2 separate regions of the Homo sapiens genome follow, and region 2 is linked to region 1. The links come from fine-mapping of genetic effects on gene expression. Tissue or cell type: minor salivary gland. Region 1 holds a variant in brackets; the other region holds the start of a gene. All regions are shown on one strand. Distances are between the middles of the regions.

Region 1 (2,764 bases):
ATATCTATGTATAAAATCAAGTATCTTGCCAAATATTATCAATTTAAAACTAGGATTGTGCTTTTTAAAATATAGATACTAATTGTCTGAAAAAACTCATGTATTTGATCCTTTTCATCTTCTCAAATGTGTAATAAACAAGGTAAGATCATGAAGGGTAGAAAATATCTGCTGGCAAACTCTGAACTTAAATATGACTCCTGCTAAAATGAAATGTGTAGTCCTTATTGTCTGAGGAATATTGGAAACACATAAAGTTTGGGGGTGAGAGGAGATGTGTACAAAACCAAATCTATCTTCTTTAATGTAGTATATAAACTTCCCACAGCTAGCAATCCTGATTATTCAATTTTCTGAAATAAATTTGGACTTCAGCTACCCAGATACCTTGGATAAAGGTAGTCTTTGGAAAACTGTGACAACAAAGTATTTTTCAGGCTTCAATATACTGGATAATCGGTATATATGGAACCAAAAAAAGGGATGAAAGAGGAAATTCACATGGCCTCACACAGGTGTACTTTAAATTCCTCTCTTATGTGTTTAAACTACTGGGATGTGGGGATGTATGTACACTGTGTCAACCAACACACTGCCCCTTGGCTTATGGTTACAGTCCTAATGCGGAAGAGAGAATGGCCTAATGGGTTTGCCTTTGACAGAGTTTTTCAAAACTAGAATTATTCAAAACACAATACTAACAACATTTATTATAAAGAATACCTCTGAATAGTAGTATAAAGAGGCAAAGTAGTATGAAGTGAAAGCGATGAAGAGAAAATCCATGGAGGCTTTTTTAACCAAATTTAGGAAAGCCTCTGCTCCTCTTCATGCCTCAGTTTCCTCATCTATTAAAGAAATGGGTTAGATATGATAGCCTCTATTGGCCCTTCCAGGTCTGACATGCCAAAAATTCTCTATTGCTCCTCACATTACCCTAATCTGGGAGCTCAAGGAGTACCTCTGGCTTAATTAACCATGCAGATAATTGTGTGCTCTAGCTGGGCTCAGTGGTGCACCTGACTTGGGAGGCTGAGATGGGAGGATCGCTTGAGGCTGAGAGTTGAATAGTGCAGTGAGCTATGATCACACCTGTGAATAGCCACTGCACTCCAACCTGAGCAACATAGTGAGATCTCATCTCTAAATAATAATAATAATAGTAAATCTTTTTAAAAAATTAATAAAATTGTGAATTCTGACGTAAGTCCAATGCCTTTTGATTTACTTTTGGGGTCCTGGATTTCCACTCAGTTCCTCTCAATCCAATCATAAAATCTTATAGTCCACAGAAACTGTAAATATTATCCAGTCCTCTATTACTGAGATGAGAAGCCTAGGATTTAAAAATTTGCCCAAAGTTATGCATAGTGGCACAGTCAGAACTAGAACCCAGGTTTCTTGACCGCCAATCCTCTATTCTCTATTCTATAATGTTGCTTCTTGCTATATGTGGGAGACAATGTCTAGATTAAAAATTACAGAAAACGTCAAAAGTCCACAAGCCTCTGGAGTCAGAATCAGAAGCAGGAGAGCCAATTTATTTATGATTGAGTAGAGGTTGTTTGAAAAAAATTAATAAAACATTGTTTAAGAGGCTAAGTGCCTCTAGGGATAAGAATCTGGCCTCCTTTGCCAAGA[C/T]GGAACTCAATGAAAACTAAGACTAACGTGTAAATGTATTTTTGTTGAAGTTTTTCCCTTGAGATTGGGGGAGGGCAAACTGATTTAGATAAAATGAGATCTGACCTCGGCTGATCCAAAACTCTTGCCCAAGACACAAAACAAAGCCCCAATAAAACTCTAGTCTTGGTTCAAACAAAGGTCAGTAAAGGGGAGGGGGGATAAGGATGGAGACTGAGAAATAAAAGCATTTGTTGATTCTCTTCCTGACCAAAAGTCGCACTGCCAAATTGTCATAAGAAAGGCTGTTTATACAGACGCCCCAGCCCAGCTAAAATAAAAGTAGGAGTCAACTCGTCAGATTTTACACTTGGTTCCCAAGTAAGAATAGTTCAGTGTAGCTTCTGAATTTCTGGCTCCTTCGATAAATAGGTTTCTTTGGTATCAGGAAGTTATGCATTAAGAGAAAAAAGTGTGGACATCTTTCCTGGGCAGGCAGCATCTGAATACATTATTTAGTGTTCAAGCATACCAAAGATTAAAAGAAGAGATCCCACAAAGCTGAGAGCAGCCATTGTATAGAGCAGGCCTCTTAGGTCAGCTAAGGAGGAGGCTGGGAAATAGGTCAGCAGCTACAAGACCTTAGTGAAAACACAAGCTTGATCCCAAGAACTAGACACAGACCTTGATGTTCCCTAACAGAAATTCAAGAAACATTAAGGCTAATCCATAATGGAGAATCCATAAAAGAAAATGGAGAACTGTTTTTGGTTTTGTTTTCAAATTTATGCCACAAAATTCTTATGCAATCCATACCTTGAGATGGCAGCAGGAAGAGAGGGTTAGATTGAATGGATCAGTGTTTTGATTGAATGTGACATACGCCATATTTCATAAGCAATTCAGTTTATCTTTTGAAGGGCAAAAATAAGTGATTTAGGCAAAGCATGTTTAGAGGCAGAAGTCATCAAACTTTTACTTAGGTTAATTCACTTAAAATACAATTTGCATGACTTCAAACTGCAAATTGAACTGAAAAAGTGGCACCAGCCAAAGCAAAGATAAGCAGGAAATAGGTCCACAGGTCCACAAGACATTTAGAACTCCCTGCCCACTGTGCTGGCTGGTCTTTGTGGATATGACT
Region 2 (2,500 bases), 240 kb after region 1:
GAGTCTCAATTGGTTTCTACGGGACAACTCACTGCGGGCTACCGCCCTGGGTGGGTTTGGCAATTGTCCTGCTCGAGGTGGTTCAGGCCGCCCACAAGGGGCACAGCCGGGCAGTCAGGAACCGGGGCTGCCGGCTGGGCTGGCCTGCAAAGAAGAGGGAAGGGCCGGAACTGCAACCGCAGTGGCGGGGAGTGCGAGGGGGCGGCAGGTGCAGGAGCGGGAGGCGGGGCGGAGCTGGGCAGAGTCCTCGCCAGTCCGGCGTCCCGGAGTGACCTTCCCCCACCCCGCCAGCGCCCAGGAGGGGTGGACCCACAGCCCAGGGAGGCCGAAAGCGCGGGCGGGCAGGCAGAGGCGTGGAGGCTGGGCCAGGACTGCCGGGCTGGGGTCCTCGAGGCTCCGGGCGACCCAGGTGCGGATCCCCCAGCCACGGAAGGGGCGGTTCACGCCCAGCCGGGAGCTGGGAGGGGGCTGCGCGGCGCTGCCTGCGCGTCCCTCACCGCCGCCCCCGCCTCCTCCTCGCCCCGCGCCCAACGCCCCGCGCCCAGCGATCCAAGCGGCCCCTCTAGCCCCGGCGGCTCCTTTGTGCCGGCCCCGAACCCGCCCTCTCGGGCCGAGTCCCTGCCCCTGGCGCCGGCGATTGGCCACCGGGCCGCTAGAGGGCGGGGCGCACGGCCGCCGGGGCGCGGTATATAGTAAAGGTAGGGCGGGCGCAGCCAATTCCTCGGCTCCTGGCGGGAGTGCCGGTGGCGCCCCGCAGTCCGCTTGTCCGTCCTTCCCTCTCTGACTCTCCTACCCCGGGCCTGTCTCTGCAGAGGTCAGGGGAGGCGGGGGCCCAGCACACGTCCCCAGTGGCAGCGGGAGCGGCAGCTACGGGTTCGCGGAGCCCCCGACCCCCCAAGGGCTAGAGGAGCGCTCGGCGGACCAAAGAAAGCCCGCGAGCGGCTGCGCGCCCACCAATAGGTGCGGGGCTCGGAGCCGCGCAGCCTGCGCCGTCCCTCCCTCCGCCCCCGCCCCGCCGCCGCCGCCGCCGCCGCCTCCCCCTCCTCCTGCTCCTGCCTTGGCTCCTCCGCCGCGCGTCTCGCACTCCGAGAGCCGCAGCGGCAGCGGCGCGTCCTGCCTGCAGAGAGCCAGGCCGGAGAAGCCGAGCGGCGCAGAGGACGCCAGGGCGCGCGCCGCAGCCACCCACCCTCCGGACCGCGGCAGCTGCTGACCCGCCATCGCCATGGCCCGCGGGAAAGCCAAGGAGGAGGGCAGCTGGAAGAAATTCATCTGGAACTCAGAGAAGAAGGAGTTTCTGGGCAGGACCGGTGGCAGTTGGTGTAAGTACGGGGTCCGCAGCTCCCGGCCGCCGCGTCTGATCTTTCCCGGGCGGCGCATCCCCTGCGCAGGGTCCGCGGCCGGTTCCGCACCCACCGCGCTGGCCGGGGTGGCGGGGGCGAGGGTGGTGGACGCTGCTGGGTCGCGCCGGCCTGGGCTTGCAGTCCTGTGCGGAATGCGGTGTCCCCAGAGTGGGGCGCAGGGTCGGGGCTGGAACACGACAGGCGGAAGGTTATGCATATCGTAGCGATCTTGGCTTGGTAATTTGCAGTCTTTCCTACCGTGCATCGGTTGAGCCTTTTACTCCTGGGAATAGTCAGGCTCTGCGAGACTACATTTGTCTCTCCCGTGTCCTGAGTCCTTAAAAAAAAAATGAGATCTGGGGTCTTGAGAGAACCTCGTGAGGTGATGGGATCTAATGCAGACGAGGTTGTGTGTTACAGCATCTTTCTTCTAGTCTAAATACGTATCTCAAAAGAGAGGAAAGAGAAGGGTGGAGAGGAATCCATCCACACTGTAGTATTTCACAGCGATGGCTAAGGATTTCCCTCCATGACCTCCCCTGGAGTCATCACCACCCAGAAATGGTTCAATAAGCTCCATTTCAGGACTCCGATTCTTAGCTTTGGCCCGAAACCTGGCAAAGTCTGGTTGTTTTCAAGGTCTACACAGACAGTTGTGGATCAGTCAGTAGGTTGGGTTGATTATGGTGAAGGGAATATAAACGCAGAGCAGCTGATCTTAAAATATTTTGTGCAGCCTGTTGCTTGGTTGGATAGACTTTTTTCCATCGAAAATTAGATTTCTTGTTTTCAGCCTCTCCGGAAAGGTGACTTTTTTTTTTTTAAAAAAAAGGTCATTTTGAAGGGCAGAGTTGTAGGCGAATCTATGAGTCGTGACTGCGTGAGGGAAGGAGGGAGGGAACTCCCCCTGCTGCATCACTGCCCCCTCCTCCTCCAACATCATCATCATCATCATCATCATCATGACCATCACCACCAACACCACTGGCACCACCACTGCAGTCATTCAGGGAGTCCTGAACAGAGGCCGATTGGTGTTCCTGCTTGGGAGGATCTGTGGGAATCGGCAGGAGAATGAGTCAGGGAAATAGTGCTTAGCTGACATTTTGAAATGGAAGAAGCTGGAATATATGAATTTTTGTAAAGAAAAAAAAATGCAG

What was found. PIP is the estimated chance that this variant, and not a neighbour inherited with it, causes the effect.
Region 2: it holds the start of ATP1B1, and the variant in region 1 is fine-mapped to the expression of ATP1B1 in minor salivary gland (GTEx, PIP above 0.99).

Annotation. Positions count from the first base shown.
Region 1 is chr1:168,862,222-168,864,985 of GRCh38, forward strand. The region is part of intron 1 of LOC105371606 (a long non-coding RNA gene); the gene reads left to right. Among named protein-coding and RNA genes, the nearest start is that of LINC00626, 77 kb to the left of the region's middle. The variant C/T (reference allele first, on the strand shown) is at 1,642.
Region 2 is chr1:169,105,608-169,108,107 of GRCh38, forward strand. It overlaps ATP1B1 (ATPase Na+/K+ transporting subunit beta 1), which reads left to right and starts at 1,083. Exons shown (of 6, transcript NM_001677.4): 1 at 1,083-1,319. The coding sequence starts at 1,223. RefSeq lists enhancers at 1-73, 564-858, 647-1,219, 1,220-1,792 and a silencer at 131-1,050.